Regions from separate parts of the Homo sapiens genome. Here regions 1 and 3 are each linked to region 2. The links come from fine-mapping of genetic effects on gene expression. A gene starts in region 2. Each other region holds a variant in brackets. All regions are shown on one strand. Distances are between the middles of the regions.

Region 1 (10,141 bases), 94 kb after region 2:
AAAAAAAAAGGAATTAGATTTTTCAGAACTGCACAACCAAAGATTTGCACACTTATTTATAGAGGTGACCCGTGAGCTTGGTTGACCCTGGATGCTTTTCTGCGCTATAAGGGAACCCGTGGGTGGCCGATCACTCTCTGGCCCTCCAGAGGGGGCCTCCCTCCTGCGCGGAAAGCGTCCCGGTGCACAGCGCCCAGCTCCCGGGTCTCTGTCGGACCTGCGACTCCCGGCGCCTTTCTGGTGCCCTCCACGCCCTCCACGGGCAGGGGCGGAGCTGAGGGGCCCACACAGCTCCCTCTGCCCCAAACGGGGCAGAGAATGAGTAGGTGCCTGCAGCCAGGGGCGCGCCCATCCTTTCGCACACAACAGGCTCCTGTTCTCTAGGCAGTGATTAAGTGAGAAAAAGAGAAGCCTGGCTTGGGGGTGAGTCTGGCGCTGGGTGAATGTGAATCGCCGACACGGTCTCCTGCAGGGCTGCGGCGTCCTGGCCCGTGGCTGTCATTCTGTCCCGGTGCTTCACCCCCGGCCGGTGTGAAGCCAGTGTGAATCCATGGCCCGCGCGGACACACCCGCCAAGCAGGCACAGGAGCAAGGGGCTCTAGCTGCGTCCACTCCCCAGGGTTAAAAATTAACTGTCCGGCCTTGCTGGCATCTCTGTTGACAACGCGATCATTCCTGCTGGGAGCGAGTGCGCCACAGAGATTAACTCTGCCTCTCCAGTCAGGCCGCCTGGGTTCCACTCCTAAGCCTTACCCTCTTTAAGGCTCGTTCTTCATAGGTCAGATGGATCTCAGTCGTCCTGACCGCATAGGGTTGCTCAGGCATAGAAGGCACTGGGCACCTGGTGTGGGCAAGTTGTGCCTGCTCAGTAAATATTAACTACCGACTCACAGGACATGCCTCTCTTTTTGCTACCCTCGCACGTTTCTTTTCTCGTTTCCTTCTCCATTGTCACTGACCCAGGGTTGGCTGATATAAGTGAAAAACACCAAGGGTGCCGTCTGTTATCTAAGTCATGCAAATGCTTTAAAATTATATGTCTGTGTATGTATGAATATATGTATCAGGCTCTGGGCACATAGAGGTGAAATATCATGTAAGCAAGCACTTGTATAATTTTCTTCAGATAACAAGCTTGAAAACACAGCCTCTACTTGTTTCCTTCCCTTCCCTGTCTCCCTTTCTCTACCAGAGCTTTCTGGACCATCTCCAAATAAACTACTTGCTCTCAAATCCCAGTGTCAGAGTCTGATTCTAAGTGAATCTAGAGTGCTGGCAACCCAGAATCCTTTTCCAGGATTCAGGATGGAATCTTACAGGAGATACACAGTCCTATAAAAAGTTAGAATAATAACGCAGCATCAATTTGTGCTTGATCATTAAGCTAATAATGCCTCCTTTCTCCACCAGCCCCATGTTTCTGATACTGTGATGTGTGATGTTGTAGTTGTGAAATGTAATATTGTGATGTGGCAGACAGATTATAAGAGTTGAATGCACCAGGAGATTTCCTGTGGCATTATAAGAGTTGAATGCACCAGGAGATTTCCCGTGACATAAGTAATTCTCAGGCCCTATGAAGTGCAGGCTTTAAAAAAATCTGGTTCAGCAGCCAAAAGTCATCAAAAATTAATGCTAGTATTTTCTCTCTCAGAGAATGCTAATGGGAACATGTTCTAAAGTCCACTTTTCTTTCCTTCCTTGTTTTCTCAGCTTTTTGAGAGTGCCACATTCTCTCTTTTTGCCCTGACATCTCCCAGCTTCCCAAACATTCTGACTCAGTCTTTTCTTCTCTCCCAACAGATGCTCCTGCTAGCTCTTAGTTAGGTAAATCAACTTAGCCTCTCTATATGCATTAATTCTCTCTCAGTTCCCAAACTCTCCCTAATAAAGAAGAACTTGAGAGTTGACTCAGCTGTCCCCCAGTATAAAGTGGTGGGCATGAGGGAGAGAAATGTGAATTACTGATACATAATTTTCCCCCTATTAAACTTTATTCCTTGGAACATCTTTGTGAATTCTGCAAATTCACAAAGATATTCATAGTCCTATATTCATTTGAATTATCCAAAGCTCCTTCCAGACCCAGTTGACCCATCTTTTCTTTCCTTTTCTCACTGGAGTGGGCATAATTTCCTGCCATTTCCCACTGTGCTGCCGCCAATTCTGGCTGTGTCCATTAGTGTCCCTCTTGACAAACTTGGATTTGAAAAATGGGCAACTAAATCTTCATTTATTAGACGTGTTTTTCTTTTACTAACAGCTGCCATCTGTTCCTCTCCACCTCAATACAACTCCCCCAATCCCTCCAGCATCCTTTTTGGACATTTTCATTCCAGTTCCTCTTTATTCATGTGCACATTCAATTGCCAGACAGTTTTTGAAAGAGTAGAAATAAGAAGTAACAGAAAATAGAAATAATAATAAAATACTACCCCCAAAATAAAAGAGACATGGGAAGAGTTTCTTTTTTCAAAAGGGAACACATAAACAACACATGAAAGGTTGGAAAATAACAAAGAAAATAATTTTTTAAAAAAAGATGTAGACGCAGGAAGGACAATTATGGAATGGCTGGAAAGATTAATAATAACCAAATAGCTTGAGGGTTGCCTGCAGCAGAGATGAAGAGAATAAATCAGAATAGAAAAAAGGTTTGCCTGATTCTATTTTACAGACAGTCTCTTAAAATGTATGTGTCATTCAAATTTGTTTTGATGTGTCAGTCATCTCCAGCATTCATCCTGGGCTTTGGATGCTACTTAGTTGCACGACTGGATGTGTTCTAAGATCTGCCATGCAGGTTATATTCTGATTTACTTGCTTACAGTGAGCTCCTATTTGGAACATAGTTCTGAATGCCAAAGAAAACCAAAGACAGAACACTTCCAGCTCAATTTCCATCTATAAAGTGGTCAAAGAAAACTCCAGTCCTTGAACTTGTGTTCTAGTCTTTTATGCACTGTTTAGAGGTTCTGCAGGGGCTTTATGCCTGCCCTCTGTGAGAGATGAAGCATGTTACCGGCTCCTGATGAATGGACATTTAAGATCCAAAATGTATTGAAGTCGAGTTGTCATCACGTTTTTCATTTGCCCAAGTCCTATATCCAAAAAAAAATGATGTTTTTCATCATTTCATATAGATGAAAAACAACATTACCAGCCCCTGTTTCAAAGGCAAAATGCATTCTGCATTGTATATGAGTTGGGTAATGTCAAGTGTCTGTGATTGCAGCGTGGGAGTTGTTTTGGTCTGTTTTATTTTGACTTAAGTCAGGAAACAATAAGTATGTTTGTCATTTTCCAAACAATATGGTCCAAAACCACTTGTGGCTGGTGTTCTTTCATCTCCACGGGGCATTCCACCCAACAATCACCATCTGCCAGGGACGCCTATGAATGTCAAAGTTCTGCTAGGTTTCTCTGAAGCCTGCTTCTGCTTTCAGCAGCTTTGAATAAGCTACAGGGCCACAATTTACTTCTATTGTCATTTCTTCAGGGAGATAGAGAGAAATACATCTGCCACTTTAGACAAGAAGCCCATGGGAAGAGTACACACACAATCAGAACAGCCAGAGCAGGATTATTCAATTCAGCTGCAATCAGAAATGGGGGAATAAGACAGAGAAGAAAAGCCCCATCTTGTTATGTGTAATGCTCATTTCTGAGCCAGTGTTTGAAGACAGATCATGCTTTGTGAGAAAAACATATTTTTTCATCAGATAGGATGTAATCAACCAAGAATTAATCATTAGTGAGCCATTAAATAATTAATTGTAAATTGTAACTAATTTCTGATTATTAAAATGACTTTTTTTTTATACCTGGGCTCCTATAATTCCCCATTTTAAATAGTTACCAAGCTACGCCCCGATAAGATAAAGACAAAAAAGTTGCAATAAGTTAGCTTTGGCTATGTAACAAACCATTAAGACATAATAGATTACCACAAAAAGTATTTATTAGTTCACTATAATCTGGGTCAGGCATTTAGGATGAGTTCCGCTAGGC[G/A]GATCTTCTGCTTGTCTTGCCTGGGGTTCCTCACGCAGAGGCAATCAGCTGATGGTGTCAGTAGGAGCCGATTGGTCTTGAACGGCCTCACTCACATTTCTGGTTTTAATGCTGGCTGCTGTCTGGGAGGTGCAAGGGATTGGGCCCTGTATATCTCCAACAGAGTAGCCCAAGATTGTTCACATGCTGGTGGTCAACAGTGTTCCAAGATGCAGCAAGACAGAACAAGCCCCAGTGCAGAAACATTTTTCAAGCATCTGCTTATAGCATGTTTACTATATTCCACTGGCAAAAGCAAGTCACTTGGCCAGGTCTAGGGCCAGTATGGGCAGGAAATCACAAGGGGGTGAACACTGGGAGGGGGGTATAAATCAAGGACGTTACTGCAACAACCTACCACAGACGTATCCTTGAAAATGCTTTTATCCGTATCACCAGACCAAAACTCTAGGGACTTTGAATCATGTAAGCATGTGCCAAAATGGATCTCAGCTATCTTCAAATCCTTCTTTGGACAACTTAAATTCAGAAAGGTGACTTTTTTGGGCCCAAAGTCACATGACTAACTCAATACTACATTAATTATGAAGGTATTGGCAAGCATCTGGAATCACTGATATAGTAGTTTCACTTAATTTTTAGGATAGGAAAATTTATTTATAAGGGGAAAATCTATCAGGACTAAAGAGTCTAGAAAATATTTTCAGAAAGAAAAGACAGAGCTCAGGTGGGCAGGTAAACAAGCAGATGTAATGAGGGAAAACCAACTGAAGCTCAAGGTGTTATGTTTTTCTTATATTATTTTCAGATTCATAAGGCAGTACTTCTCAAACTTCAATGTGCACATGAACTGCCTTTCCAGGGAGAACTGTCCTACTGCAAAAGGTGTATGCCCAGGAGACACTTAGCTCTCATCCATGTTGTTCCCAGAAATCATATAGAACTCATAGGACATACTCTGAAACCTGAATTCCTCCTCCTACAGTGCACCTTAGGGAGACTCGTTCCCTTGGTCGCAAGACACATCCTCCTGGAATCAGTGTCTTCTTTTCATAACTGCAGTTATCCACTGCAGCAGAGAAGAGCTGAATTCTCATGTCTCCCCTCCCTAGCCAGCCCACTTGATCTAAAAGTGTTCTGTACCCAGGTCAAGTTCCTCAGGCAGCACCAATGTGAAAGTGAGGAAGTGAGACAGGAAAGGGAAGAAACACCATAAAGTGTGTGTTTTCAAGGAAATTACCAGTGTGGGCAACTGGGACTCAGGCTTGCTGAGCACCTCTGGGAAACTGTGGAGAACATGACTCAGTCATCCACCCAATGGGAAGAAAGTTGGGTGTTTATCCACAAACTCCCTGTCAGAGACCGCTGGAGGGTGCTCGGGGAGGATTAGTTCTCCAGCACATCACTCTTCCTTAGGCACACAGCTAGTGAGTCAGAGAAAAGCCTTCAGGCAGAGACAGTATTTTGGGGTTTCTAAAAGCAGCTTCAAGCTTGTACAGGAGAATGCAGAAGGAATATGGGAAAGGCTAGAGTCCTTCTGCCTTAACCATCGCCGGAGTACTAACTAGAAAGTCAGGACTAGCTTAAATGTATAATGGTTGTGACTAAAACCAAGGCAAGCACATGAAAAGCAACACATTAGTAAAACAAGCAAAATGTTAGGCATCAAACAGCCCTGTCGGTTATTTCTGCCTTTTCCCCCTTCTGTTGACTGGTTGGGTTATGTTGTTGTTGTTATGCCAACCAATAATGTCTCAGCTGCCTTAAATAAAGTATTTGTTTTCAACATTATTCACCCAAGTTACTCAACAGGAAAGCAAAGATTTTTTCCTTGCTTTCCATTAGGAAGCAATATTAGTTAGATCTGGATTTCATTCTGTCCCTGTCGTCTCTCAAAACTGTGACCTTGGCCAAGTTATCCTCCCTCAACTTCAGTTTCCTTATCTGTTAAAAGACAATAGCAATTCTGACCACATAGGATTGCAGTGACAGAAGTATGTAAGCAGCCCATCCATGAAAGGCACACAAATGTTGTCCTCCTTCTTCCCCACTCTCCAATACTCTCCTCACTGCTGAGGATTAAATTCAATTCTACTTAATCAATTTATGTTGAAGTTTTACTGTGTGTAGACTCTGTCTTGGATTACATAGCAAGTATAGAGCTAATAATCCTTTCTTTCTAATAGCTTTCCATTTTGGGGAAAGACAGGCATATAAAGCTCTAACAAAATCAGGTAATGATAAGTACTTCTTTCAATGTGAAGAGCATCATGCTCTGATCCTACAGGGAGAAACAAATTATCCTCTATTTTCTTGTAATTTACATAACAGTAGTTGATTCCATAATTCACTCTCAACTGCTAGAGTCTGCAAGATTCCCACCAACTGCCATCTTCAGCAGAATTGTATTACACATGAAAAAACCTTTGACTAACCTCTAATTGATTCCGACATTCCAAGAACTATTAAAAAGAGTTGAAAATAATCTAGAAACTGCTGACTTGTATCAGGCATAGATTTATTCAGACAAAACAGAGAGACAGAAGGATTTTGAAGTGAGATGGTTTTGTCAATTGGGCATAACAAAGGAAGAAAAATAAAAATTATCGTTCATGCTTTGAAAATCTCTCTTGTGATGTACCTCTCTGCTACAGTACCTGGCATTTAGAGGTGTTTAACCAATGTTAGGGAAGAAAACTAACACTGGTTAAACACCTCTAAATGCCAAGTACTATAACAGAGTACTCATTGATCATTTTATTCAATCTTATCTACTCTTCAAAGCCCACAAAAGAAACCTGTTGATCAAGCAAAGCTTATCACACTTCCTGCAATAAGAGAGAACATTGTCTTAATGGAGAATGGTTTTAGGGCCTGAGCTGGGTGATTTCGAAGTTGGTCTTGCAAGGCAGGGCACTTGTTGGGACTGGAAAAGTTTATGAAAAGTTTCTTTGGGTTGGTAAGCATATGGAGGTAAGGGTCTTGAAAGGAGTATTGATGAGTAAGTCATCAATCTTGATAAGTAAGCTGTTTCATTGGTGTTATGGGATAAACTGTGCCCCTCTAAAATTCATAGGTTGAAGGCCCAACCCCCCTTCCTCAGAATGAGACTGTATTTGGAGATAGGCCTTCAAGGGGGTAATTAAGGTTAAACAATGTCATATGGTTGAGCCCTAATCCAATATGACTTATGTCTTAGTTCATTTGTGCTGCTATAACAAAATGCCATTGACTGAATAATTTATGAAGAACAGAAATTTATTTCTCACAGTTCTGGAGGCTGGTAGGTCTAAGATCAAGGCCAAGGCCAGCAGTTATGGGGTCTGTCAGGAGCCCAGTCTCTCCTTCCAAGATGGCACCTTGTTGCTGCATCTACCACAGGGAAGGAACACTGTGTCCTCACATGGTAGAAGTGATGGAAGGACAAGAAAGGTGAACTCTCTCTGATGCTTCTTTTATAAGGGCATTAATTTATTCATGGAAGTGGCACCTTCATGACTTAATCACTTTCCAAAAGGCCCCAGTTCTTTTTTGTTTTGTTTTGTTTTGTTTTTCTTGAGATGGAGTTCACTCTGTCACCCAGGCTGGAGTCCAATGGCGTGATCTCGGCTTACTACAATCTCCACCTCCTGGGTTCAAGTGATTCTCCTGCCTCACTCTCCCAGAGTAGCTGGGATTACAGGTGCATGCCACCACGCCTGGCTAATTTTTGTATTATTAGTAGAGATGGGGTTTCACTATGTTGGCCAGGCTGGTGTCAAACTCCTAACCTTAGGTGATCCGCCCACCTCAGCCTTCCAAAATGCTGGGATTACAGGCGTGAGTCACCGCACCCAGCCAAGGCCCCACTTCTTAATACCACCATAATGGGAAGTAAGTTACAACACATGAATTCTGAGGGACATTCAGACCATAGCAAATAGTGTCCTTATAAGAAGAGGAGATTAGGACACAGACGCACACAGAGGGATGACCATGTGAGGAAACACAGGGAGAAGACAGCCATCTGCAAGCCAAGGAGAGGTGCCTCAGAGGAAACAAAACATGCCAACACCTTGATCTCGGACTTCCAGCCTCCAGAACTGTGGGCAAATAAATTTCTGTTATTTATAGCCACCTGTTCTCACAGCCCTAGCAAACTAATATAATCGGTTCACAGTCATCTTTTTGGTACTTCCAGAAACAGGAGATTAAGTAACATACCCAAGATTACAAAGCTATTAATGTGGAGCCAGGGTTCTAACTTCAGTCTACTGAACTACAAAACCAAGTTCTGCATATTTTAAACTTTCCTCTGAAGCAGAAACAAATTATAAATAGGGACTAAATAGAAAGTAACTAAAGCTTTGTTATATGTTTCTTCAATTGCTCAGTTTTCCATGGGCAGCACAGGGCACTCATTGCTGTTTCTTTTCTACAGCCTCCAGCCTAGGACAGCATTTTTGTTTATAAGATATAAAAGCCAGCCAGTGTTTTATCCAGGTGAGCTGACACTCTTGTGTCCCACCCACTGTCCTCAGGCCTGACCATTTCTGGGAGCAGAGATTCTGTGATTTCCAACTGCCAATACCTGCAACTCTTCATCTTAGGCAGTTCCCACTTGGCCCTGGTTCAGGGCAGATTGGAAGTTCTGAGTAGTGAATGCTCCCCACCAGAGAAGCCCTCAACCAATGATTGATGGGAGTTGGTGGACAAATACCCCAGTTCCCTCCTCCCTCACGTGGGATGACTCTGAGACATGTTTTCTGTACTATTCCCAGAATTCCCCAATGGGATTGACACCTAGTTGTGGACAGTAGTAACAAGCCTGATAACATACCTTGTATTGGCTGCCTTTTCTCCCCATTGTTGCTTTTTGGGATTGCCTCCTAGATAAACTATACTCAAGTCTTTGTCTTGGGGTCTTCTGGAGAAGCTCAAATGATACCAGGCTATAACCACTGGCTCCAATCTGACAGTCACCTCCCATCTCCAACACCTCTGTATGGATCTCTAGGTTTCTTAAGCAAGAGGCCACTTTCTTTAACATGACCTGGAAGAGCTGGCATGATCTGGCACCTACCTACCTATTCTTATCAGGGTTCTTAGGTTTAACAACAGAAGTAGAATCTGGGTAACTAATGCAGAAAATGAATTTATTACAAGGGCATCTCTCACAGAATCAGATTAGCAAGATGGGAACCAGGCTGATTTAGAGACGAGTAACCAAGGCCCTACCATAAGAACCATCGACTTAGGACACTCCTGCAGACCCTAGCCCACCTTGGTCCTGATCACCCTCTTCCTGCTGCCAGATTCCACAACCCAGATACTCCCCCTACTGCTGAATGTTCAGCTATCAGTAGCCCCCATGGAACTCTCTAACCAGTATGTACCCTCCTGGCCCTCCCGAAAGACTTACAGCCTGAGAAGGAGCTGTGGGCTTGATATGCTTAAAAAGCATGCTCCCACAGTGCATGGAGAAAGGTCTCTTCCCCTACTTCAGCATCTGCAGAAGGAAATGGGGATGTCCCAAATAATCAGGGTGCTCAAATACTGGGTTGCCAGAAGACAGACCCCCTACTGCCTCACAGCCCCCTCCTCATCCTGAAGTCCAGCCCTACCAGGCTTTGTGCAGTGTCGCGAGGCCACCATGCTTCTCCTTGCCACACAGTGTGCATAGAAGGCTCCCCTCTTCTGCCCAGTCAAACTCCTCTTGGCTGCAGAATTCAGGTCAGCCTTCCTCGTGGAAGATTTCCTGAGACCACAAACATGTCAGATCCCCCACAAATGCATGCACAACAGCTTTCCTTTGAGAAATTCATCTCCCTTGTAATTGCATGTCATTTGCCTCCCTCCCAAGAAGTCAGCTCCCTGTGGGTCCAGGCTGTCTCCACTTTTACTCACCCTGTGTGCTCAGCACCAAGCAGAAGGTCCAGCACATATTAGGTACCAAATAAATAGCTGTTGAAGAGATGAATAAGTGAATGAACACATTTATAAGCAGCTCAATTTTGGTTTTTCACAAATCACTACACAGTTTGTAAATAGCAAAAGACATTGTCCTTTTGGCTTAGAGGTGAGGCAGCTCATATTTTCAATGAGAAAGATGTTCTCTCATGACAGACACTAAAATAACCCAATGGGGCGT
Region 2 (10,141 bases):
TGAATTTATTTCTGGGTTCTGTATTCTGTTCCATTGGTCTATGTGTATGTTTTATGTCCATCAACAGGTTAGTGGACAGACAAACGGTTAGTGCTATCGGTCATGCGATGAATACTAACCAACAATAAAAAGGAATAAAATATTGTTACACATTACACCATGGAAAATTTCAAAATAACTGTGCTGAGTGACAGAATCTAGACCAAAAACAAGTACACATTATGTTATTCCCTTTATATAACATTCAGGAAATATGCAACCTCATCTATAGTGGTATAAAGCAAAGCAGTGGCAGACTGAGGATGGGTGGTGTGAAGGGGTGGGAGAAGTGTGGGAGGGAGCCATAGGAAAATGGCATGAGCAATCTTTTGGAGAAAATGGATATATTCATTATCCGACTGCAGGGATTATTTCACAGGTGCATACATATATCAAAACTAGTTAAATTGCAAAACTAGTCAAACTTCACAGTTTACTATATGTTAACTATACCTTAACAAAGCTGTTTTGAAAAATTAAAAAGAAATTAATGCATAGTGAATGTGTTATTAGAACTTTAAAATAATCTAACTAGGTCCTATATTAATTATAACATCTGGATTGTAGGATTTTAAAAGAGAAAATAAATCTACAAACTAGGATTGAGTGACTAATTCTAGAAATATCTGTTTGTAAGGGTGTACTTTTTGGTTCACTCCAGTATCATAAGACAATAAAGTAAATATCATATAGTGAAATTCCCTAAAAATAGACAATGCCACGTTTTGCCAAAACATCTATGAAAGTATAGAATATTTTCAAAAGAGTGGAAAATATCTGAGAGCACAGCCATAAATTTATAACTGTTCCTCTAGCATGTTAAGTAACATTATACATCAATTTATCTACTCGGGGTAGGTCGTTCAAACTGATACTAAATAGTGTATAATTATCCAAAGCATTCAGATCAAAGTAAGTAGTTTCCTAGAATCTTATGTTTCATTATAATGGGCAGAGTTTACCTTATAAAATTAGTGTACACGTTTGAATGTATTAAATTTTATTTTACACATAAAATTTTTATCTTTTAAAATTCCTGTTTATATTTGCTAACAAGGCATATACTTTGTTCTCTCTGAATTATTTCTGAGTTATAAGTAGTTTGAGAAACACAAAAAAACTCCTTGTTGAAGATAATTTCCATAATTATTTAAAAAGTACATTGAGAAAGATTTACTATGGTTTTTAAAAGATCATGAAAAAGGAAAGAGAAATAACACAAGGTAGAGAATTCATGAATAGATAATCACTTTCCGCAGACAATAAGCAATGTTCCAATAAACCCTGAGAAATAACTAATTACTTTTCTAAGTGAGCAAACATTATTCTGTAGTCCCGTAGACCTGAAAAGGAATCTAAAGATAGTGAATAGCAATGTGTTCCTAATTTTCAAAAGAAGATTAAAAGGGCCGCTCGTCCTCATTGTTTAGCTGCTTCAAATCCTATCAAAATAATAGAACCTAAATTAGCAAAAGAAGCAAATTTTCACTGTCCTGGAAAATAAGGAAGTGAGAAGTAGCTTTTGTTTGTGAAGAGATGATTGGTCTGAGTAAATTGGATGACTTTGATGAAATTACAAAAGGAATATAACCCAAAGCACTGTAGATTCAATACTTTGATAATAATAAACACTTGAAGCCATATAAATTCTCTTCACTATATTAATTTAAGATGGCTTAAATAATAAAAATCAGCTGAGAATTTTCAACTGAAGGAAAAACAGAGATAGGTTATTTAAGGAAAAGATACAAGTTGGTGAAAGCTATAGGAATTGGAGGTAGGACCAACTGAATCACAGTGATTTAGAAGTGGGTGCATACTGAGAAACTAAAATTTCCCAAGTATCTGAATTTTTAGTTATAGCAAATGTGAGAGTATATGTAAATACTAGAGGAAAATGAGGTGAGTTCTTGGAAAATAAGAATAGTCTGGTGGAAAAAAAAAGACTTGATCAATGCTGAGTTCAAAATTGGGCAAAGATCTGTAAAGTGGTAACGATATTTCAGAAAGCCTGCATATGGGCTGGAATGGAGGGAACAGACAGGGCAGGGTCTTTAGGAATAATCCATTGAAAGGGTTGACAGTCAATATGGTTTGGCTCTGTGTCCCCACCCAAATCTCATCTTGAATTGTACTCCCATAATTCCCACATGTTGTAGGAGGGACCAAGTGGGAGGTAATTGAATCATGAGGGCAGTTTCCCCATACTGTTCTCGTGATAATGAATACGTCTCATGAGATCTGATGGTTATTATAAGGGGGAGTTTTCCTGCACAAGCTCTCTTTTTTTGCCTGCTGCCATCCATGTAAGACCTGACTTGATGCTCCTTGCTTTCTGCCATGATTGTGAAGCCTACCTAACCATGCGGAACTGTAAGTCCAATAAACCTCTTTCTGTTGTAAATTGCCCAGTCTCACGTATGTCTTTATCAGCAATGTGAAAACAAACTAATACAACAGTACAATATGACAGTAGAGAATTGTTCCTACCTGATTAATGTACCATTACTGCATTTAAAATGTTTGCAATGAATGCAGCAAAAATGGCAAAGCCCAACCTGATTTTTAACAAGGCTGTATTTTAAATTGTGATTTTCAGTGGTATATACCCTATTTCTCTCCAGATTACACATCCCACACAATTGAAGAGAAATCAACAGAAAAATTAGATCTTTCTCCAGTAGTCCAAAGAATATTCAAAGGTTTGGGGGACTCTCCTACGGCTGCTTCTGGCTTGCTCTGTACCCCCAGTGGTAGGTTTTCCTTGGCATGATGCTCTATGAATCCAAAGTTCTCCTTTTAGAAGTACATCTAAATGTGAGTATCCCAATCATGCCTCAGGTGGTTTTGGTTTTTTAAAAAATCACCCAAGGTCTCTTGATTTCTAGTATTAAGCCATAAAATGGGAGAGTTCTAGTCTTGTTTTGCAGGACAACATCTTCAAAGAGACTCTGGGGGCCTGTGGCACATCTGAGCCAGAACCAAACACCCGACGTCATTGTTACAGATACAAAAGTAAATAAATGAAAAGAAGCTCCAGGTATTGGTGATTTTTATATCTCGTGCTGTCAATCTGTTTGTGTCAGTTATTATTTTTTCAAGTACACAAAACTGATAAATATGAGACCATTTGGGGGAGGTTACACAAAAATAAGTATGCCTGTTGGCCACAATATGTTATTAAATAGTATTGTGGTCCTCAGCATTTCTCAAACTATTGATGATGCTTCCTACATTACAGCGTATGTTTTCACAACTCTTTTGAAATTATAGACTTTGGCTCTGAGGTATCTAATCCAACAGTCTCTTTTCACAGATAGAAAGATAGAGACTTTGAGAGGTGCAATATGTTGGCCCACAGCCAAGTGGTATACATACCTAGTACTAGCAGAGCCTGCAATAGGGTCCCTGGCAACAGGCTTCTAGGTCTATCCTCAAAATGTGCTGCTGCCATTCTCTCTACTGTCCACCTTGACTATTGTTATTGGAAAAAGGAGTTTGAGAAATAGTTGTCTAAAAGAGCAATTTGTGTGCACACATGGGTGTGTATTAGCATTTCAAATAACAATGTATCAATAGATATCCAAGGGATAAATACATTTCCTCTTCCACTTGCTTACTACATTGTTGTGTATTGAAAATTTAGTATTTGAATAACCAAAAAAATTATCTTTCCATTTGCTATTCTGTCCTGACAATATTATGATGAGCTGTATTTTATGTAAACCACTAAAGAGGACTTATTTTAATTAGTCATTCAGGTTTTATATCATTTCTGGCCAATTTTACACAGTTTTAGTTATTTAAAATGTAGCTATATGAGATTCAACATTTACCAGCATTTCATATTTGGAAACTATTTAAGAAATGAAGTGGCCAGGCGCAGTGGCTCACGCCTGTAATCCCAGCACTTTGGGAGGCCAAGGCGGGTGGATCACAAGGTCAGGAGATAGAGACCATACTGACTAACACGGTGAAACATGAAAACCTTGTGTTATAATCAAACGGATGGACTATGAGGGGGTAAGCTGTTAAACAATAGAGTAATAGAAAGGGGGAACAAAGGCAGAAATGAGCCTCTGAGCAGTAGTGAGCTGAGGGGCCCAGAGTTGATCTGTTTCCCTTTATTAATACTTTCACCGTGTTAATACTTTTCCAGAAACCTTGCCTCCACCATGGCCCTAAGTCCTAACAGATAGCTTAATTTTCTTAGAGGAATTCAAATAACAATAATAAATAATGTCACATAGACTTCTAATGTTTTAATAAAAACCTTCAGCAACGCCCACATTTTTACGTGACAATTTTTTAAAGGGCTATGAGGGAGCCAACTATGTCAGCAAACAGACATGCTCTGAAGACAGGGTGGTCCATGGCATTCAAAGTGTATTCATTTCTACCGATGGTGCTTTTCTTGCATAGGTTCTGACTTGTGTAGATTTGGACTTCAAGCTAAAATAAAAAGAGAGGAATATGTGTATACATGAGAATGTGTGTGTAACGTGTCGATGGTATAAATAGTCTCTTCCTCTCTCTCTGAATTGCATGCACTTAAGCCCCTAAGAAAAGATCTCTTACCTCTTATCTAAGTAAAGCAGAATTTTGAGCTTTGAAGCTAAATGATACAATGAGATCAGTGTAAATACTCTTTAACACAACAATATTTGAGTAGCTTTGAAACAGTCGTCCTCATTTCGTTACATACAGAACGTTCGTGCTTCCTCCCTCTCAGGCAAGAAGCGGAGTCCGTCGTCAGCAGTTAGCAGAGTCCAGTGCGAGTGCACGTTTCTTAACCGGATAACTTAGTTGCCCCTGCCCCCCGTCGCTGCGCCCGAATTCGCCTCCAGTAGAAGACGTTCAGCGGGCGACTTGGCCCGGCGCCTGGGATCGGTGGCTATGCGTTCCCCAACTAGCACCCTCGCTGTCCTTGTGCAGTGGAACGTCCCCAGGTCTGAGAATGCACCTCCCGCCGTGTCCACCCCGGCCGCGTCTCTCCTGAAGGCAGATCTTGGAGGTGCAGCCAGGACTCCTAGAGGAGCCTCCTCCAGTCACCATCGCGGGTGGGGCGAGCCGGGTCTCCTGCTGGGCTTCCCAGCCGCTTCGCTCCGGACCTGCCTGGAGCCTACAAAAAACAAGGGCTCGTCCTTGCACTCTCGCCCCCCATGGATCACCCCTAGAAGGTGCTTTCCCCAACCCTCCTGGTGCCAAGGAGAGCAAACCTCCCCGGGGATTTGCCCAAAGTGGTGGGAGGAGGGTTAATATTTGCTTTGTTATTCGGATAAGGGGAGGCAAGTATGCCTTGGGTGTGTGTGTGTGTGTTTGAGAGAGAGAGAAAGAGAGAGAGAGAGAGAGAGAGGTGTTTTTGCAGCGGGAAACAAGCAGGAAGAGGCACAGAGGCCGGCGCCCCTGCTCCCCTCGGGGCCTCTGAGAGCGGCACACACCGTAATTCCCTTCCCAGAGCCTACAGATTCCCACAAACAATGACATCACTCCGCCGCCGCTGGCCTGATTACAGCTGGGGGGATTTTCCTGGGCGCGCGGCGGGCCAGGCTGAGATGGGGGAGCTCTCCGGTGCTGAAAGGGGCGGGGGCGCGGGCTCGCTGCGCTGCGCTGCGCTGCGCTGCGCCCCCAGAAGGCGGAGGCGGCCGGGCCGGGCCGGGCCGGGGGTGGGCGGGGGCGGGCCCGGGGCGGCCCAGGGCGGGGCCCGCCGCTTCCCCCGCCCTCATTGGCCGCTGGCGGACTCACGTCACCCGAGCTGGTGCTCTCCCCCAGCCCCTAGGGAATTGGAGCTGAGGAGGAGCTGAAAATGCAGATTTAGCATCAAGCACAGACCTACACTCGCTCTTTCTCTCCGGTACACACAGCTCCCCACATTCGCACCCCTGCCCGCGCGCCGGGCCGCCTGACTGCACGGCTTCCCCTCCAGCCAGATGCTGGAGAACACACACTGATTCGCTGCTTTCCAAGACCCTGTTCAGTCTCTTTCTCTATACAAAGATTTTTTTAAAAACTATATATAAGAATTCTTTATTTGCACCCTCCCTCCGAGTCCCCTGCTCCGCCAGCCTGCGCGCCTCCTAGCACCACTTTTCACTCCCAAAGAAGGATGAAGGGTGGTTGTGTCTCCCAGTGGAAGGCGGCCGCCGGGTTCCTCTTCTGTGTCATGGTTTTTGCATCTGCTGAGCGACCGGTCTTCACGAATCATTTTCTTGTGGAGTTGCATAAAGGGGGAGAGGACAAAGCTCGCCAAGTTGCAGCAGAACACGGCTTTGGAGTCCGAAAGGTAAGCTCTCCCATGCATTTCGCATGTTGTTTCAAAACGGGGGGACGGGGGGGCAGCCCTGCGCAATCTCATTGCAGATTTGCAAGTTTTCTCTCTTTCTCATGCGATGCAGATATTCTGCCATGGGCTCTTTAACACGATATTGCCTCCGGTGATCTTTCACCGGTTATGTAATTAAAATGTCCTTCATCTGTACTAGTAAGGTCATCAAAATAATTTACTGCTCTTTGACTTGATGGCGAAAATAGGATAACACCTTTCACAGGATGCCATGCTCCGGGGATGCTGTCCGAGGTACCAAGTTCTCGAGGCTGCCTGGGGATGGAGGGATGAAGCCCTGAACAGCTAAGCCTGGCGTTGGCTACTTGGCCAGGGAAGTCTCCCCCACCCCCATCCCCCGGAGAAAGAATAGTTTCCTACAGACGAGGCTGGACGTTTGGACACTGCAATTCACCTCGGTGTTTCTCCCACCCCGCGCCGGGAGGACTTCCCTCCCAGGGACTTCGGTCCCTGCTCCTCTCCGGGAACAACGGCTTCCTGACTCTAGATTTGGAAAGAAACTGGTCTCTAAAATCGGGGCGGAACTTCTGCGCCCTCACCCCCGCCCACGACCGCCCACCCCTGGAGCGCACTTCTGGTTGGCTCCCTAGTTCTCAACTCCCGGCTACAGGAGCTGGAGAGGTGGATTTTGAGGGGGATTCCCTACGGAGAAGTCGAGGTGTCCTCTCCTGATGCGTGGGCGGCCAGCCTGGCTTTCCCACTAGAGCGTGGGGATCCCCATTCCAAGAAGTTGCCAGAGTTCGACAGTTTGAGCAGATAGGTGAGCCTCCCAGCTTTGGACACCTTGGATCTCCTTTGGAGACTCCAGGGTACTCATCCTGGGAGGACAGAGAGAAGGGCGCTGGGTGGGGGCTGTGGCTGACCTGCGTGTCTCTCCTGCAAAAGATGTATCAGGGTTCTCCAGTGTCCTTAGGGGACCTGGCGCAGGCTGGGGTGGAGTGTGGGTGCAGAGAGAAGGTGGGGCGAGGGGAACCCAAAGGACAGAGATGTGGCTACCAGAGGGCTGGGTGGAGGTCCCTGAGATTTTAGGCTCCATCTCGCTCCTGATCCCAGGAAGAGAGAGGAGTGAGATGAGCGGTGGGTGCTTTTGGTTATTGGTTTTGCCTTGAAGGGCCGCGCAGACCGAAGCTCTTATTAGTCTCTTCTGTCCTGACTTCCCAAGCCTCCCGCCTCTCTCCCAGCCACCGCCAGGGCTCCTCCAGGTGTGGGGGCCTCTCCCTCCTCCTAAGGGCGTAGGCAGTACCGGAATTTCGACCCCAGAAGGGTCTGGCGACGAGTTTGACAGAGGTCTGGGAAGAGGCTCTGGGTCCGCCGGTGGCGCGCGGGCGGGTCTTGCGGAAAGGAACTTGTTGCTCTGGAAAGCGTGGGTGGAGCAGGGGAAAGAAGGCGCCGGCGGAGGGAGCACCCCGCTGTGGTTTTGGCCCGTGGCCTGCCGGCTGTTTTGAGAGACACCAACACAATAAAGAAGCCGACCTTCCTTCTTCACTCCCCCCCACCCCAAACTTGGCAAGACCCAGGACCCAAACGCCATTATAAAATATAATAGTGATTATTATTAGTTATACGGAAGCTTACGTGCTGGAGTCCTTACATAGATTTTTACTTAATCTTCTCAACATCTCTGAGGAGGCTACTATCATTATTGAGCCTATGGCCCCGTTGAGGAAATTGGTTCAGAAAAGGGTGCGAGATAAAAACAGGCAAGGGCTTCAATCCAGATCTTTCAGAAGTGAACCCATGCTCTTTACTCCTTAGTACCCACCCAAGCAAGCTAGGTGCTTTCAGGGGATGTGGGGCATTGAGATAAGTTGAAAAGGGATTTTAATTCTTGAGTGTGATCTTGCTGCAGAAACCTGTGGCTCCCTCCCCCTCCCCCACACCTTTTCATGGGTGCGGGGGAGTGGGAGGGAGCCATAGGTTTCTGAAAACCATTGTTCTCAGTGGTTTTCTCTTCTCTTTGCTGCCCCCTTTGAAAATGTGCCCTTAGGATCAGAGATCAGATAACTAGGCCTCTTTGTCCTTCATTCTTTCTTGGAGAGGAGCACACTGATTTTGCATCACAACCTGAAACCTGCAGTTCCCATCTGAGAGACCTCTCTCCTTACTTCTCCATAACCTCTCAGGTAGTACCCCACAACCAAATCCAGTGATTTTTTTTCCCCTTTTACACGTTTAAGTAACAGGGACTGCCTGGTGCAACATCTGCCTAGAATAAACCTCCTTTTGGATCCATGTCTTGTCCATTCTTCAAGACCTAAATTCAAACCTTTCCTGATGCTACAGACCACAGTGAGCTTTCCCTCCTCCAAATTTTTATGCGACTGATAGGCAAACACTGCACTACATAAGCTAATAAATGCCATCACTTTTCCTCATTATTTCAGGTATATAAGTAAATATGGGTTCAGTTGTTGTATTTCTACTTAAAAGGTAAATATTCAGGGATGATACCTCCTATATTTCTCATTTCCTCCCTGTAACCAGCACATTACTGTTTTGCCAGCCTTGAAGGAAACTTCCTTGTCTGTATTTATTATCCCAGGTTTCCCAGACACCGTCCTATCTTGCTTTCATCATACTGTTTTGTACTTTTGCCAACATTTGTTATTGTGCATCTTAGAGGCCCTTATGTCCTTCTCCTTCCTTGCTCTGATGCTTAGCATGCTTCCCAACTCCCTACTGCTCCCTGCTCCGAGGCTCAGTGTCAGACACAAAAGATTCTCAGTGGTTATTTATTCATCCATATGAAAGGTCAGCAATGGAGGCTAGAAGAACATGCTTTCTTATTAAATTATCTCATTCTAAGCTCACAAATCTATGAGAGAAATTACTGGCATCAGCTGTAATTCTCAGATGAAAACCTTAAGGCCTTGAGAAGTTAAGTATCTGCTTATATCTGAGAAGTAAAAGAACTCAGACTTAAAACCAAATTTGCTTAACTGAAAAATAATTGCTTTTCTACATCATGCTGCCTCCAGGAAGCCTTCCCTGACTGCCAAGAACTCTTCCCTTGAGACACAATTTTAGAGCTCTGCTATTTTCCCTTTTCTTTTTACTTTTATTATATTTATCATTTATTTTCTATTAACACATGAACATGTCATTAGCTAATGGGTACGTGTATTTATGTCTTCAGGTAGACTATAAATCTTCCAAGAGGAGAAATGACATACTATATCTTTATATAGTCTCCATATCTAGCATGGTGGCCTGTATATGAATATTTAATTGTTTGTCAATTATTTGATTGATTCTTATAAGACCATGAACAAACATTTGTTTTCTCTCTAAAATGAAATAAAAGCACCTATAACTTTACCTCTGAAAAGGTTATGGAGATTAAAGCTTTCTATTTTATCATGACCTGGCCCTGGCCCAAAGACCTATGTCTATCAGAAAAGATACTTAAGTCTAGGAGAGTGAATGAGTTTACAGTAATGACAAAAGCATTATTCCAAAGAGTGCCTTAAAATTCTCAAAATGCTACTAATTTTAATTGATTTGAAACAGAAAACAAAAATTATTTATTGAAGCAACCTGTTGAAGATTAACCAAAAATCAAGTGAGAGTTAGGGTTTAAAAAGAACCTGATATTATCCTAGGGGTTTCATTGTATTATGGTGTGTTTTATGTTTTATCCACAGAGGACAGATGCTGAAATGATTACACAAGTAAAATCATGTGACCATTTTTATAATGTGTGAGAATTTTTTAATTTTGAAAACAACCTAATAATCATTATGCTGCCAGGTAGTAAAA
Region 3 (10,141 bases), 260 kb after region 2:
GTGAACTCAGAAGGGACTTAGGAGACTCAGGAGGGACATCACAGCATCTACTACATTCTCCTTCCACACAGAAGGTTCCAAGCGTAAGTAACTTGCTCACAGCCGGGCGTGGTGGCTCACACCTGTAATCCCAGCACTTTGGGAGGCCAAGGCAGCTGGATCACTTGAGGCCAGGAGTTCAAGACCAGCCTGGCCAACATGGTGAAACTCCGTCTCTACTAAAAATACAAAAAATTAGCCAGGCGTGGTGGCACATGCCTGTAACCCTGGCTACTGGGGAGGCTGAGGCATGAGAATCACTTGAACCCAGGAGCTGAAGGTTGCAGTGAGCTGAGATCACACCACTGCACTCCAGCCCGGGCAACAGAGTGGGACCCTGTCTCAAAAGACAAAAAAAAAAAAAAAAAAAAAAAAAAGAGATAAGTAACTTACTCAGGCTCACACAGCCAGTGTGGGAACTAAACCCAGGTCTGATTGATCAACCCCAAAGCCCTTGCCCTTTCCGCCACCTGAAGCTGCCCTCAAAATCCCTTGTAAGGTGCACCCACCACTGCTTATCCTATCTCCTCTTCACTCTGCCCTCAGGAAAATACCATCCACTGGCAAGTTGGTGCTGACACTCACAACCGACGCCTGTGAGGGGAAGGAAAATTTTGTCCGCTACCTGGAGCATGTCCAGGCTGTCATCACGGTCAACGCAACCAGAAGAGGAGACCTGAACATCAACATGACTTCCCCTATGGGCACCAAGTCCATTTTGCTGAGCCGGCGTCCAAGGGATGACGACTCCAAGGTGGGCTTTGACAAGTGGCCTTTCATGACCACTCACACGTGGGGGGAAGACGCCCGAGGCACCTGGACCCTGGAGCTGGGATTTGTCGGCAGCGCCCCGCAGAAGGGGGTGCTGAAGGAGTGGACCCTGATGCTGCATGGCACTCAGAGTGCCCCGTACATCGACCAGGTGGTGCGGGATTACCAGTCCAAGTTGGCCATGTCCAAGAAAGAGGAGCTGGAGGAAGAGCTGGACGAAGCCGTGGAGAGAAGCCTGAAAAGCATCCTTAACAAGAACTAGCGCTGCACATCCGCCTTTCCCACCGCCCTCCCTCCCCAGCTCCGCCTCTGTCCTCGCTCCACGTTTCAGGCAGGCACCTAGCAATTCCATCACCCGTACAGGCAATTCCGTCTTCTTAATCTGAAGCTTCACTCACTGTCAATGATTATTTTCATTACAATGGAAACAATCTTTTTTACTCTATGCCCCAAATATAGCGTTCCCAACAACATCCATGTCCTATGTGTGACTCTAAATTCTTTATTTCTGTCATTCAAATGGGTGATATCCTGAAAAAAAAAAAAAAAAAAAAACTGGGACAGCTTTCCCCTCATTTTTTTTTTTGTTTCTGAGAAAAGAACGTATTTTAAAAGCCACATAGAGTGACTCCAAGAACAATTGTCCATGGTCTCAAACAAGGGGCTGTTACATAACAAGAAAATCAAAGCTGAGGACAGGGTGTGAGCGCCACATCTCTGAAAGCACAGGAGACACTGTGCTATAAATCCTTTGGGGAGCGATGTTTTGAATTTAGTGAGATTTACCAGGGATGTAGATTAAGGTGATGTGATTCAAAAGATGCCATTCATAGAGAGCCCTAGTTACTGCATGGGGAAAGAGATCCAGGAAGCATGAGTGCTGGATATTTTACTACCAATGCCAAGATAATTCACTCTACTCAGCCGGCGTGGCAAATATAAAACTTACAGAGCGTGGCTGTGCTCTCACCAGCTGCTGCTCTGAGTTATGTTAAAATCCGCTAGAGCAGCCCAAATTTTTCTCAGTTTGTATAGAGTTCATCCCAGCCCCAATTTTCTGGGGCTCCTCACATAGCTACCCAAAAGAGAAAAAAAATTAAGACAAGCCTGGCAACACACCTGGTGAAGAGTAGTTTACTAGCTTTTCAAACAAGAATGTCCCTTTTCCTAAGTCACTTTGAGGTGTCTCAATCTGATCTGAGTGAGAGGCGACAGGAGTATTTTTTTTTTTTTACAGCTTTACACACACAGATGTGGGCTTTGATTTCCAAGTAATATAATGGAAGAGAAATCTCATACTCCCCCACAGTTTGATGTCATTAATGTGTTGGGAAAAAGGCCTCTGTCCCGGAAGAGTCATGGGAGGTGAAAGGGGCACGTTTGAAGATGCGAGCGCTATCTTCACATAGTTCTCCAGTTGTATGGAGCCTCTTCTGCCAAGAGAGGGCCATGCAATTCATCCCAGAGGAACCTGAGGCCTGAAGGAGGTGAGAGAAGACCTCTGTGAGGAAAGCACACAGTCACCTTCTCGGCAACTAAGCAGTCCCTGAGACCATTTAACATGCAACCCGAAGGTTATGGTCAATCCCAAAAGTCACCACTCCATTCCCAACTAGACATTACCAAAGTGACCTACCCAGAGATTGCTTCTCATCCCCAGTCCCAATGCACATCCATTCCCAAGAAATGCTTTGTCTTCAGCCTCTCCAGGCACCATCTCCCTTCCTGTGGGAGCAGAGAGCTTAGCCTGGAGCACCTTTCCTTCAAGCCAGCAACACAGAGCACTAGGTTCAATTCCCTGAAGGTGGCCACTTTAAGAGAGAAATCTGAAAACCCCATTTGCTTTCTTTTCTCCCATATTGGCATGGATTTCTGTCTTCTCTAACACCTTGTGACCTTCTCTATATCATGCTTTAAAGTGTAATAATATGATTTTTTAAAAGAAATTTATTACTTGTTGCAAAGGTCTTTTTAAACCAGTTTAGATTTCAAGAAAAAATAAATGGAAATCATCGAAAATTCATTTCACATTAATGGTCTAAAAATAAACCAAAGGACATTATGTGTGCATGTGTGTATAAGTGCACACAGAAATATATATACATATGTAGACTATATACATGTGTGTATATATGTGTATATATACATACACTTGTATAAATGTATATACACATATACCTATAATGTGTGTATGTGTATTTATTGAAGAAACAGATACCATACTCATTTCTAAAAGAATATTCAGAGAATATCAAGATGATTCTGGCTGAAAAAGGCCAGTGGAAATTCAGGTGAAAATGTTCATCAATTCCCATTGCATCACCTCTGTAATTTTTCAGCTCTCTGTATAAACATTAAATGTCTTATATAGCAGCAAAAATATAAAATAGTTGTCCATATTTTCACAGGTGTGGTGTAATTTATAAAATTAGAAAGCAACTTATCAGCTACTTAAGAGAAATGGCAAGTTTTGATATGAGTATACAATATATAAAAATATATATAGTGCTATATATATAAATATTTGGTCTCTATTTCATTTTTTGCATCAGTATTAATACTAAAATATGTCTCGCTAGTGATGTTTTTATGATATCCCTGATCCTAACTGAAGAGACAGTTATTTATAGTCATTTATTTTAAAAAATGAAAATAAGTGAATAATAATTAGGTTAACATTGTTGCTCCCTGTGACAAAATTTTATAAGCAAATTTCAAAAGACATGTTGTAAATTAGGAGGCTCAACAATAAAACATTATGCTCCAGAAATTATGTGAGATGTGCTATATTGTACATGAAAATACTTTCATCCATTCTAGGAACAGATAATTTAAAAATTGCCAAAGAGAGATCTAAAGAGCCTGCTTTACTAAGTATGCATAAAAGACTTATAATTAACATATAAATCATACACAAATTATTATCTACAGCAGTATTTTTCAAACTCTAGTTACATCCATTAGTGGGTTGTAAAATCAATTTAGGAGGTCAGTTTTTAATAAAATAGAGTAATTTAGAATACAGTAGGAGAGAAGAAAATCACAGGATAGGATAGGATAGAATAGAATAGAATAGAATAGAATAGAATAGAATAATCATGCATAATAAGGATAAGTATTGTTTCCTGAAATATTTGTTTCAGATGTGTGTGTGCACACGTGTGTGTGTCTGAGTGTGTGTACTGGATCACAATGTAAAATACATTTTTCATTGTGAGTGATGGTCAAAAATCTTTTAGAAACACTATTCTAAAATATATTAATCAGGCTAGACTAAGTTATGCTATAGTAACAGACAATCTCAAAATCTCAGTGGTTTAATACAACAAAGGTTTATTTATCATCCACACAAATTCCAGTGAAGGTTCAGGTGACTCCCCAAAGCCACAGACCTCCATGCAGTGACTCAGGATCCAGGCTGTTTCACCGTATGGTTTGTAATCATAGCACAAGGCTGCTACAATCACCATGCAGAAGAGAACCCAAGGAGGACATTCATCTGCTCTTCTATGTTTAGCCTGAAGGAGACACATGCATCGCTTCTGCCCATTGCCCACTGGCCAGTATTGGGCAATAGCCCTGGCTAAATGCAAAGCAACTGGGAAATCTGTGACAACTAAGGGAATATTTGGTGAGCATTAGAGTCTCCACTACAGAGAGTGCTTGACATTCCCTTAAAACATGTTCTTAAGAAC[C/A]GATTTAACATGGCAATCACTCTTCATGGATGGTACCATGAACATTATTACAAACTGGCTGTACCTTACCCCATAGACCACAGACTATTCTAGAAAAAGACCTTAATAATTATTCATAAAATATTAATATACTATATTTACCAAAGTTAATTATAAAAACAATTTATAATTCTGTCCTCTGATATAACACTTAAACTCAATTATTAAAATCTTAGCCGGGCATGGTGGCATGTGCCTGTAGTATCAGCTACTCAGGAGGCTGAGGTGGGAGGATAGCTTCAGCTCAGGAGGTAGAAGCTGCAGTGAGCCGTGATCACACCACTGCACTCCAACCTAGGTGAAGAGCAAGACACTGTCCCAAAAATAAATAAATATAAACAGAGTCTGTTACTAAAAATAGATATTGGCGGATATAAGGTCCAAGGTTTGATCTTGTGATCCTGAGACACTCCTTTTTAATACTTAGGTTTAAAGATGGATTTCCAAAAGATTAAGTTTAAAAAATGATTTTTAAAAATTCCGATAGAGTTACTACTCTATGTCTTCATTCGTATCACTTATAAGTTAATGCATGGTTTTCATGTGATCAGCGCATTTGCTTGGAGTGATTATATGAAAACCACACAGTGTAAGACCTTCAGGACACATAAGTATTTTATAGTTAACAGAAAGAAGTGCTGAATTAGGGGAAATGGTGATCTCACAGCTAAAGTGTTTAGATGCAAATAGTCTAATTTGGTAGAAATTTCTAAAAAGCAAAATGCAAAGATAAAGGACAGTGGTTGTGGAAGAGAGTTAGGGGATCCTTAAAACTCTGGAATTGTGAAATGCCAGAGACAGAATGTCTCCTAGGCTAATGTAGGTGGTTCAGTTGTGGCCAGCAGGGTGGTTCTTTGTCTCTAAAGAATAAGTCAAGAGAAAGGGTGGGAGGATGGAGGGCACTCAGCACATGGGAGCTTAGAATAAATGAGAGTCAGGGTGACCAAAGCTGGAAGACAGTGTCTGGCAGCATTCAGGGTAGGGAAACATGAAGCCTGACATAAGGGAGAATTCCAGTCTCTGAAGAGCTGAAGTCTATCGAGGGATACAGGCCAATACATTGGCAAAGCCACCCCCAGAGAGAGTGCATTAAAACACCACCACTTGCCAATGGTCCCATTGCATGCTCACCCACAGCCTCCTCATGCCTTATGCAGCTTCCCAAGAACATTAACACCGGTATAAACGATCCAAGCAGCTAGATCTGCAGAAAACAACACCCTCTCTTTGAATTGTAAACTAATCAGCTAGTACTTGAGTTTTTCCATTAGTCTCTTGTGCATTTAGTTGAACCCTTTCCTTGGCTTCAAAAAACCCTGATCAAATTTGGTTTAAGATGTATAAGGGACCTGGAATCAAAGTCTGAGAACCTAGGGTAAATTCTCCAAGCCAAGGTCCTGGCTCCATGTTTCTCTTAGAACTGAGAAGAGACTCACGTTTGTGAACCTGGGAATAGAATGATCTCAGGTGAGGGATGCACTCAGCCTAAAAAGATGAAGATTCTGTGTGGCTAAATGTTTAATGCTCATTCATGCATGATTTGCGGTGGGATGGGATGGGAAGGCAACTAGAAATCTCAGCTCACAGAGTTTCAGGTGCCAGAAGAGCCACATGAGGCTGGTAATTCCTTAGGCCTAACGTCACTGTTACTGATTTCCAACCAGGAGGCTTTGGGCCAACCTGCCCTCCCCATCCCAAGATGGGGTGTGCCAGCTCCCCATCCCAAGATGGGGTGTGCCACCTCACAACACCCTCAAAGATGTCCCTCTGAATCTGAGAGGATATCCCATGAGCTACTCAAACTAGATGGAGGGAAGAAGCTAAAATTTATCTTTTTCTTTTCTGGCACCATGTCCCAGGACCACTGATGGGCCACAGGTGACAGGCAAGCTCCTGGTCACAAGGATGCAAGCATGAGGGTAAAGGGGCAGGTACAGCTGGTGAGGGCATCAGCCCAGTGGAGTCATTGACCAGGAGTGTATCTTCTGATAAAATAAGTTTCAACTCAAAAACTCTGTTTGAATACAACATAAGTCAGTGTGGCTTTTTATGTTGTTTGCTTGCTTTTATCCATGCCTGAGAAAATGGAGTCAGGTATTGTACCAATCAAGATACCAATCATCAATGTGCCAAATGCCATGTGAGTTTTGGGGTGACTTCATTCACCAGCAGTGTCCTAACCACAAATCTATGTTAGAAAAATTTTAGGATAAACTTGATAGTAATGGCTGCTTGAAGATTTTGTTTGTTTGTTTTTCGGGGTTTTTTTTCATTTAGGTTTTGTTTGTTCGTTTGTTTGTTTGTTTTTGAGACAAAGTCTTGTTCTGTTGCCCAGGCTGGAGTGTAGTGGCATGATCTCAGGCTCACTGCAACCTCCGCCTCCCAGGTTCAAGCGACTCTCCTGCCTCGACCTCCCCTGGTATTACAGGCGTGTGTGACCATGCCTGGCTAATTTTTAAAATATTTTTAGTAGAGATGGGGTTTCACCATGTTGGCCAGGCTGGTGTCGAACTCCTGACCTCAGATGATCCACCTGCTTCAGCCTCCCAAAGTGCTGGGACTACAGGAGTAAGCCACCATGCCCGGCCAGATCTTTCTTATAATGTAAGCTTCAAGTCGAGGAGAGAACTAAATGGAATTTCCCAACATGAAGGTGGAAGGAAGAGACAGGTTCCAATGCCAGGTTTAGAAGTGTCTTCTGAGATGTTAACTGAATTTTGCGGCAGACTGTTGGTGCATCCTCTGTATCAGGGAGTCTGCAAACTATAGCCAAACCCAGTACGCGGTCTGCTTTTATAAATACAGTTTTGTTGGAGACAACTGTGCTTGTTTGTTGTTGTATTGTCTATGGCTGATTTCATGCTACCACAAGAGAGCTGAGTAGTTACAGCAGAGGCTGTGTGGCCTACAATCTGGCCCTTTACAGAAAAGGTTTGCCAACCTCTGCCCTATATCTCCTTGGCCCACCTAAAGGTTATCTGTAGGCAGTTTCCATGCATGCCAAAGGCCATTCTATCACTCTGCCCAGCTGCAGAAAAGCCCCAGACCTCGTGTGGAGCAGGCCACAGGTGATAGGGCATCAGTGCCCTAGGGCCACCCTCTCCTGAGGAGAAATGGGATGGAGAGCTGGTAGACGGATAGCTCAGCTTCCTCACCTCCTGCTTGGGACAATTTGAAGATGTTCCACCCGCTCTCTTGAAGGGTCCCCAGTGGGATGGAGCCCCAGCTGCTCACAGTGGTGGCCACCTCATTAATGCCCCCTGCGTGGACACATCCATTCCCCATCTCATGCCTCCTCTTTCTCCAGTCAGGAGACAGAAACCATACCAGTGGTTTTAACAGAGAGAATTTAATACAAAGTACCATACAATTAGTATAATGAATTGTTACCTAGTTAATTCAAAAAGCAAAAGAAAACACAAGAATCACATGGACCAAAAAGTCCAACATTTGTGGGAGTGGGGGGCTCACGCAATGAAGATGCCCTCCTGGCTCGGGCAGGATCCTAAGGCATCCGTGGCACCCCAGCCTGCCTTACCCACCCACAGTGCCCGGAAGTGGAGCACAAGTGCACGTGTTAGGACCTGAAAGATGGGGAGTTAAGACCTGGCAGAGTGAAGCCAGAGGAAGCTCAGGTGGAGGTCTGTAGTGGTCCCAATGTGCAAATCAGTCATCTGACTTGGGTACAGGTGCATGAGGCCAAAAGATTAGAGAAACCACCCAGCAGCTGGTTCATGCCAAGATTTCCCTCAGGACCACTGGCACTCTCTCAAGGAAACCCATGCAGATTTTTTCTTGTAAAACCAACGCTTACAGTCTTTAGGGAGAAGCCCAGCGGGTGGTATGGCGCTGGTTATGGAATACAAGTGCCTAGTGGGCCACTTCTTGTCAGCAGACCTTCAAGAAGCAGCTAGCTACCACCTAAGAGGAGAGGTTGGAATTAATACAACTTGGAAGTCTCAGAGGTGGGAGTGTGCTGGGACCCAGACCAAGGAGGGGCATCAGCAGGCTAGTGCAGGTATCTCTGCAGAGACTGCGATGAGGCTGGTCCTGCAAATGCTGGGAAAATGGAGAACTGGACTCAGCTGCTGCTACAGGAAGGAACTGCCACTGCCAGGGTGAAGAAGCTGTCTCAGTCCATTTGGGCTGCTGTAACAGAATGTCATAGACTGGGTACCTTATAAACAACACAAATTTATTTCTCACTCTTCTGGAGGCTGGGGGATCCAAGATCAAGGTGCCAGCAAATTCAGCGTCTGGCAAAGGCCCACTTCCTGGTTCATAGATGGCACCTCCTCACTCCGAACTCACATGCTAGAAGGGATGAGGGGGTCTCTAAGGTCTCTTTCATAAGGGCACTAATCTGGTTCATGAGGGCTCTGCCCTATGACCTAATCACCTCCCAAAGGCCCCACTTCCTAATACCTTCACCTTGGGGTAAGGCCTTCAACATATGAATTTGCAAGGGACATAAACATTCAGACCACAGAAGGATTGCTGGGGTGGTGTGGACAAGAGCAGAAAGCAAACAAAAGCCAGCGAGTGCCTTCTTCCTCCTCCAGACTTTCAGTCTTCCCCCAGCTCCCCTCTAACAGCACCTCCCAGGGAGCAGCTGGCTAAGCAGGACCTGGCTGCAGAGTCCCAGCCCCAGCATCACTGGGTAGAGAGGGGCAGGTTTGAAGCAAGAGACAGGAGCTTACTATCCTTCCTGCGACACCACCCTAACAAACCGCCTGCACCCAAGACCTTTCTCCGGGTCTGCTTTGGGGGACAACCCAACTTCATCCAAACCTCCTTATCTGTTGATACCTAACCTTATTACTTAGCAGTTATCTTTGGGGTTACAAGCAAAGAAAACCAACTCTAACTAGCGAAAACAAGTAAGCAGTATGTCAAAAACATGTGGTGTAGCCCTCAGGCCTGAAGAACCAGCCAACACCATCCTAGAAAAAAGACAGTGATTGGAGCAAGGCTGGGGACCCGGAAACACAGCAAGGATTGGCAGGCAACCTTGCCGGGGTCTCAGGCGGCAAGTGCCAGCACCTGCAGCCTGCGCTATACTGGACTCAGATTTCTAATTTCATTGAGGGTGAATCTGATTGGGCTGGTCCGGGTCACTGGCCCACCCTGAGGCCAGAGGAAGGCAGAATATCTTGATACATTAGGGTTGTATCCAGTGTGGGAGGAGCGGCTACTCAATACAAAATCAGGGCTGTCACCTGAGGGACGGGAGGTAGGAGTGGCAGATGTTAGTCTGCTGTCTCAGGTTGGGTCCTCCAGAAGGCAACCCTGAGACAAGGAGTGAAGGGCAAGTCATTTATGTGAAAGGAAGCATCTATATCTTGAGAAGGAAAGTGAGACACGAAAAGGAGGAGGCCAATACCGGAGGCACTGATCAGTGCATTTCTTCACAGGCATCTGAGGCTCAAACCCACTGGGGAGCTCCAAGAGACTATGTAGAATATGCCTAAAAGTTACCCTAACAGCAGAGTGAGAGGGCTGGGGAAGAGACCTGCTCCTCCAGGTCCCGTCCACCCTTGATTGAGGGCTGCTCCCGGGAGCATGAACTCCCCAGGACAACCAATCTGCCCAGGTAT

Which allele goes with the higher level. Alleles are on the strand shown, and positions count from the first base shown. SD is a standard deviation of normalised expression in the study named.
As copies of A replace G in region 1, the expression in testis of the gene that starts at base 5,880 in region 2 goes up (moderate effect, 0.49 SD a copy in GTEx).
For the expression in prefrontal cortex of the gene that starts at base 5,880 in region 2, A is the high allele of the variant in region 3 and C is the other (small effect, 0.25 SD a copy in ROSMAP).

Evidence for each region. PIP is the estimated chance that this variant, and not a neighbour inherited with it, causes the effect.
Region 1: its variant is the best candidate, but not a certain one, in a credible set for the expression of PCSK2 in testis (GTEx, PIP 0.72).
Region 3: its variant is the best candidate, but not a certain one, in a credible set for the expression of PCSK2 in prefrontal cortex (ROSMAP, PIP 0.63).

The regions. Positions count from the first base shown.
Region 1 is chr20:17,315,315-17,325,455 of GRCh38, forward strand. All of the region lies in intron 2 of PCSK2 (proprotein convertase subtilisin/kexin type 2), which reads left to right. LOC105372546 (a long non-coding RNA gene) reads right to left here. Exons shown (of 5, transcript XR_007067540.1): 2 at 9,898-9,954. Among named protein-coding and RNA genes, the nearest start is that of PCSK2, 93 kb to the left of the region's middle. The variant G/A (reference allele first, on the strand shown) is at 4,012.
Region 2 is chr20:17,221,161-17,231,301 of GRCh38, forward strand. It overlaps PCSK2 (proprotein convertase subtilisin/kexin type 2), which reads left to right and starts at 5,880. Exons shown (of 12, transcript NM_002594.5): 1 at 5,880-6,322. The coding sequence starts at 6,146.
Region 3 is chr20:17,480,999-17,491,139 of GRCh38, forward strand. It overlaps PCSK2 (proprotein convertase subtilisin/kexin type 2), which reads left to right. Exons shown (of 12, transcript NM_002594.5): 12 at 586-3,580. The coding sequence ends at 1,072. Among named protein-coding and RNA genes, the nearest start is that of BFSP1, 45 kb to the right of the region's middle. The variant C/A (reference allele first, on the strand shown) is at 4,506.